Homo sapiens: one gene and its partner. The protein of the gene in region 1 purifies or fractionates together with the protein of each later gene. This does not show direct contact. Each region holds a gene or a part of one and is shown on either strand. Other genes may lie near its edges.

What was found. Proteins that work in one complex are often made in the same cells at the same time.
Region 2: the proteins of ALDH1A3 (region 1) and DHDH purify together in Homo sapiens (co-immunoprecipitation; one large-scale study listed by IntAct). This does not show direct contact.

The regions. Positions count from the first base shown.
Region 1 is NC_000015.10:100,882,831-100,886,330, forward strand, and holds part of ALDH1A3 (retinaldehyde dehydrogenase 3), read left to right. Parts: intron 1-2,436; coding exon 2,437-2,541; intron 2,542-3,500. UniProt on the Homo sapiens protein: Catalyzes the NAD-dependent oxidation of aldehyde substrates, such as all-trans-retinal and all-trans-13,14-dihydroretinal, to their corresponding carboxylic acids, all-trans-retinoate and all-trans-13,14-dihydroretinoate, respectively.
Region 2 is NC_000019.10:48,936,699-48,940,198, reverse strand, and holds part of DHDH (trans-1,2-dihydrobenzene-1,2-diol dehydrogenase), read right to left. Parts: intron 751-3,500; coding exon 498-750; intron 1-497.

The DNA of each region.
Region 1 (3,500 bases):
CCTTTCCTTATATTTGTGCTTTTGTTTTGTTTTAATGGAGAGAAAAATCAACAGTAGAAACCACTTACAAGATTACTTACTACTGTAGTGTGGTATAAAGTAAAAGATTTTACAAAATTAAAAACATAGTGATGGGAAAATATGGTTAGAGTCAAACAGTCTGATTTTTTTTTAAGGTTGCTGGTTACAGATCAATGTCATGAACAAACAGTAATTTTTTTTGGAGGAGCATGCTTGGAGATGAAGTATAGCAGTATAGCAGACATCCGATCATTGTAATCTGTTTTCAGCCCCCTTATTTATATTCTCTTCTGCCACCTTCTCATTTTCCCTCCCCCTTGGAGTTGATACCAGGAAGGACCTAGAATCAGCAATTTTCACTGACAGTCTCTATTATCTAACCCACGAAATTTCATCTTTCTACAAATGGGCCCCTCTTCCTGGCTGCACTTTCCTCCCCGCACTAACTTAACTCTTCTTCCTCAGTTATTAATTTCTCGCTGTTACCAAGTGATGACTTGCTGGATGGCAAAAGTGAACTCTTGGATTTAGTTTCAGCTGGAAGAATAAACCTGTAATTGTAGCCTGGCCTTTTCCTGGTGCGCTTCCCTGGGGGCCTGGCCTCACATTGGAGACGCTAAGCTTCCAGAAGCCAGACAGGCAAATCCCAATGGTGACCGATGCTCTCAGTTCTGGATTCCAAACTGGGGGGCAGCTGGTCTCTGCTCACCTGCCCAGCCAGAGTCTGCCTCCTGTGCTTGGTCCCCAACCGACTCAGACCAGGCTTCCTCACTATGAGCTTCAGAGGTTTTTGTGGGTTTTTTTTTTTTTTAACATTCTATCAACTTTTAAGTTCTGGGGTACATGTGCAGGATGTGCAGGTTTGTTACATAGGTAAACATGTGCCATGGTGGTTTGCTGCATGGATCAACCCATCACCCAGGTATTAAGCCGGAGCTGTGGAGTTTATACAGGAAGCCCAATACAGAGAATGTAACCAAGACTCATGCTTAGGAGATGGCTGCCCTCTCTCATCTGTCATCACTGGGGAGTCAAATGTTTCAAATGAATCAATTTCACAATAATTGAAATTAGCCCTTGAGGGACGCAATTCTTCCTTTAAACAATTCAAAAAGAAGCAAAGTAAAGCTATGTATACCACATGCAGATAGATGTAAAAACGGAACCTGATGAACTAATTCTGTACTCAGAAATTACTGACGGCATTTTACTTGAGAGACATGCGTGTCAGCCATTTCTGCCACGGGGGTTCTTCTGATGCTGTGATAGGCTGTGATGAGGAAGCCATTCCAAGTTGGTGTAGCAGGAGTTTGTGTGTCTTCTGGCTGGGCAGCCGGGGACCTCCGTGCTGTCGGAATGTGTTTTGTATATTGTCTGTCATGTCTCTTCCTAGTTTTTTCCAAAAGCCCTCTCTTTTAATATGACATTAATAAGACAATTAGAACTTAGTGTAAACTAACAGTAAATAGTACATATGTTTCAGTGCATGGACTTCGTATGTTCTTCTTAGTCTGCTCATGATGTCTTTTGTCAAAAAAACTTTCATTCTCATCTGCATTCTGGATCATTGAGGTTCCCAGAAAAGTGATTTCTGCGGGTTATATAAACAGTTATTTGCGACATCTCTTAATGTAACCTGGAAAGTTTCTAACCCAGACATTTAACTTTGTACTTCAACGCTGGTTTATTATCAAGCTTCGGAGGTTTTTCTGGGTTTTTTTTTTTTTTTGACATTTTATCAACTTTTATTTTAAGTTCTAGGGTACATGTGCAGGATGTGCAGGTCTGTGACATAGGTAAACATGCGCCATGGTGGTTTGCTATGAAAATACACATTTTAAGGGGAATGTGCTGGGGAGGGACATGCTGATGTGCATTGGTGAAAACTGAAGGGCGATGGTGAGATCCTCCTCAAAGTGAGCTCCTTGGCAATCAATCTTGCTGAGTGTTGCCACTGAAAGGAGAAAGGGAGTGCTCGGTGCGTCCTTACCCTTCAGGGGCAGGCGGACTGCTTGGGACTTTTATGTATATAAACCTATTGACTCTTCCCCCAAAGTCTATTGGGGTATGAGATTCCATTCACAGCCTCTATTTAACCATTTAACTTAGCCATTCCTCTGTGAATCCATGTTATTGCTGAAGATAATAATAATAATTTAGAAAAAAATCTCTAAGTGACTATAGTTTTATTTGACCAAAACTTGAATTTCGAGTCTGTCCTAGTTGATCTGTTGGTCATGCAGTCCTGGGACTCTGTTCCCCTCCGGGTCTCATCTATAAGATGTCGAAGGGGAGAGGGAAGCAGCAGAGAGGAAGGTGGACAAGATGGATAAGACGTCACCTAAGGTCCTTAGCATGTTGAAATTATATGATTTTGATCTAAACCTAATTGGTTACACTTCCTTTCCTGGTTAGATATTTATCAACAATGAATGGCACGAATCCAAGAGTGGGAAAAAGTTTGCTACATGTAACCCTTCAACTCGGGAGCAAATATGTGAAGTGGAAGAAGGAGATAAGGTAAATACTTAAAATAAATTTGCTCTAAGTAATTCAATTATGGATGACCAAAGGATAAGGAAACGGTTCGGCTTAGCTATAAGACAGAACTGGCCTATCCTGGGGGCAGGGCCTGGGCTAGCTGCGTGAATTGGCATGTGGTTCTCAGACGTGTGGCACAGAATGGCATCAATTACCGATGATCCTCTGCAGAGAATCATTCTCCCTTGATAGATGTTTCTCCTACTATGAGGATGACCTCAGCTATCCTCATCATATGGCTAAAGGAAAGGTTTTCTTTTTTCTTTTTTTTTTTTTTTTATCAATTATTTGGACCTGGAGGCATTAAAGAATCTTTCCAGAAAGCATTTCCCGCTGGTGTGTTTCACGAAATGAAGCTTTCTGGCAGAAGACACTTTAGAAAAAAATAGACACTTTGAAGGAAAAAAAATAGTTGCTACCCGGGTGATGCGGGGATAGTTAACAATGTAACCACCAGATTTCTTTTCTCCTAGAAATTTACATGAGCATGGAAAGCGGTAACCTTTATCACTCTATTTGCAAGTGCAAGGTCTATATAGTAATACAGAAGCTAAGGGACTTCCGAATGTGTCCTTTATACATTGCAAGGCCATCAAATCTATTCTGAATGTCAGTGCAGAGGTAAAGCCCTTCCACTGAGGGCAGGGAGATGTAAATGTTTCCTTAGCTGCTGGAGTGCTGGACTGATGTTCTTGGTCAGCAAACTGATGACGTTGGAAGTGGATGCAGTGAAGGGCGTGTGCAGAGTAGGCTTGGATTTTATCTTGCCCATGAGTTTTTGTGACAGACGTGCAAATGCACACTGGCCCCACCTATACAGACCCCCCTCTGTGTGGCACCTCATGACAGTTAGGCTCTGCTAACAAAGAAAGTGGCACAGAGGAGCTCATAGAAAAATGTGAGGGCATTGGGGGGAAGCCATGACATGGAATGGGGTT
Region 2 (3,500 bases), on another chromosome or scaffold:
ATTTTTAGTAGAGATGGGGTTTCATCATATTGGCCAGGGTGGTCTCCAACTCCTGACCTCAGGTGATCTGGCCACCTCGGCCTCCCAAAGTGCTGGAATTACAGGCGTGAGCCACCACGCCTGGCCAAGTGGGGTAGTCTTTTTTGTAGCAAAGATTCACTGAGACAACTTCAAAAAATAATAATTTTATATTTATTAACTGCCATTTGCCTCAGCAGTTACTTCATTAACTCCCATGACAACCCTATTAGTGACACTTTACCAGTAAAGTAATTAAGATTCAGAGATGTTAAGTCTGCTGGCTAAGATCACACAGCAAAGTCCCAGGAGAGTGCCCACCTGCAGTCTTGACTCTGATCCTCTCTGGCTTCATGGAAAGTTGTTCCTCTAGGTGTCTGATCTAATTCTCATTGACTTGGAGACTTGTCCTCAGTTCAGTGCTCCCAGAGAGACAGAATCATTCCCATCACCATGAAATATTCCAGGATAGATGGTACCTGTTTCATGACGCCTTCCCACGACAGAAATCTTCTCTGGCTTCTGCCCTCCAAAGACCATGGAGGTGAACTGGACACAGTAGATGCCGATGTCCAGCAGGGCCCCCCCAGCCTGGGCCCGGTCTACGGCCCGGGGAACGTGGATGAGATTCTTCCCAAATTCTGCCCGAGCCACCCGGAGGTCTCCTAGAGTTCCCTGGGCCAAAACAGACCTCAGAGCCTCGGAGGCAGGAAAGAAGCGGGTCCAGATGGCCTGCAGACCACAAGGAAAGGAGTTAACCAACCAGTTCTAATCCCTTCTGGGGTCCCAATCATAGGGGGATACCCACTGCAACCCAGTCTCCAAACACAGCCCATCAGTCCCCAGGTTGTATCCCTCTTGCTCCTGACCCTCTTGACTTTTCTTCTTTTTCTTTTTTTTTTGAATAGAGATAGGGTCTCACTATGTCGCCCAGGCTGGTCTCGAACTCCTGGGCTCAAGCAGTCCTCCCACCTCAGCCTCCCAAAGTGCTGAGATTACAGGCATGAGCCACCGTGCCCTATTGACTTTTGTTCTTTTTCATCTGGACCATTGCCCCAGTCTCCCCATGTTATGGGATGAATTGTGTCTCTCTCCCTCTCGCTTCTGCCCTGCCAAACACAATTCACGTGTTGAAGCCTTAACTCCCTAGTACCTCTGAAAGCAACTGTTGTGGCCACAGGGTTTTCAGAGAGATAATTATGTTAAAATAAGGTCAAGGCTGGGCACGGTGGCTCACGCCTGTAATCCCAGCACTTTGCGAGTCCACAGTGGGCAGATCACGAGGTCAGGAGTTCGAGACCAGCCTAGCCAAGAGACCAGCCTGGCCAACACGGTGAAACCCCGTCTCTATTAAAAATACAAAAAATTTTAGCTGGGCGTGATGGCGCACGCCTGTAGTCCCAGCTACTCGGGAAGCTGAGGCAGGAGAATTGCTTGAACCCGGGAGGTGGAGGTTGCAGTGAGCTGAAGATCGCACCGTTGCACTCCAGCCTGGGCGACAGAGCGAGACTCCAACTCAAAAAAAAAAAAAAAAATGAGGTCATTAGGGTGGGCCCTTATCCAATATGACAATATGACTGGTGTCCTTATAAGAAGAGATTAGATGTAGGTATAGAGCATGCAGGCCAGTGGGTTTAAGAGTTACGTGTGCATCTCCTAGTGAAACTCCTTAAAGGAGGCATATAGATACAGAAGGTAGAAATAAAACTCTTTGTTCATAGATGACATCATCTATGTAGAAAAATGCAAAATGACAACAACAAAAAAAAACTCCTGGAACTGGGGGCTGGGCGCTGTGGCTCATGCCTGTAACCCCAGCGCTTTGGGAGGCCAAGGCGGGCGGATCACCTGAGGTCAGAAGTTCCAGACCAGCCTGGACAACATAGCAAAACCCCGTCTCTACTACAAATACAAAAATTAGCCGGGCGTGGTGGTGCATGCCTGTAATCTCAGCTACTCGGGAGGCTGAGGCAGGAGAATCACTTAAAGCCGGGCAGCGGAGGTTGCAGTGAGCCGAGATCACGCCATTGCACTCCAGCCTGGCGACAGAGCAAGACTCTGTCTCAAAAACAACAACAATGACAACAAAAACCAGAGTTCTACCTCTTGGAGCACCCAGTCTAGAGAGACAGAGAACAGGCAACCAAGGGATGAACAAAGGAATACCAAGGACACAAATAAAATGGAGGGTCCTTCACGCAGGACAGCCGGGACGGTGACACCCTGAGGAGGTGACATTCCAGGGGAGACGGAAGCTCCGTGGACTAGGCAAAGAGCCCAGAGAAAGAATGTCACGGGAGAGCCGGGAGAATGGGCAAAGGTCCCAAGGCTGCACTCCAGCAATTTCTTTTTTTTTTTTTTTTTTTTTTAAAGACAGTCTCGCTCTTGTCGTCCAGGCTGGAGTGCAGTGTCGGGATCTTAGCTCACTGCAACCTCCGCCTCCCGGGTTCACGCCATTCTCCTGCCTCAGCCTCCCGAGTAGCTGGGACTACAGGCGCCCGCCACCACGCCCGGCTAATTTTTTGTATTTTTAGTAGAGGCGGGGTTTCACTGTGTTAGACAGGATGGTCTCGATCTCCTGACGTCGTGATCCGCCCGCCTCTGCCTCTCGAAGTGCTGGGATTACAGGCGTGAGCCACCGCGCCCGGCCAATTTTTGTACTTTTTTAGTAGAGACGGAGTTTCGCCATGTTGGCCAGGCTGGTCTTGAACTCCTGACCTCAGGTGATCTGCCCGCCTCGGCCTCCCAAAGTGCTGGGATTACAGGCGTGAGCCACCGCATCTGGCCCACACCAGCAATTTCTAAAAATGCTGACGCAAGAGTGTCAGGGCTCACGGGGGAAGGGCGGGGCAGGACGGATGTGGCCGAGGTCCGCCCGGGCTCGGAGCAGTCGAGAGGAGCGTGAACACAGGCCTGAGGGCACTGGGGAGCCGGGGGCAGGCTCTGCGCAGGCTCTGAGCCTGGGTGTTGTGGCAGTAGGCTACTGGTGCCCCCAAAGATATCCACGACCTGATGATCCCCGGAGTCTGTGAATGTGTGACTTTACAAGGCTAAGGGGTCCTGGCGGATAGGATTACATGAAAGACCTTGAGGTAGGGGCCGGGCGCGGTGGCTCACGCCTGTAATCCCAGCACTTTGGGAGGCCGCGGCAGGAGGATCACTTGCAGTCATGAGTTTGAGACCAGCCTGGCCAACATGGTGAAACCCCGTCTCTACTAAAAATACAAAAATTAGCTGGGCATGGTGGCGGGCGCCTGTAGTCCCAGCTACTTGGGAGGCTGAGGCAGGAGAATCGCTTTAACCTGGGAGGTGGAGGTTGCAGTGAGCCGAGATCGCGCCACTGCACTGCAGGTTTGTAGGGGGTTCCTTGGTCCTTTCAACCTCTACCTGGAACCCCACCCAAACTAAGCCATTGCCATTCTATGCCACTTTCACTCTTGGCATCTTTTTCTTGTTTTTTTTTTTGTTTGTTTTTTTTCTTG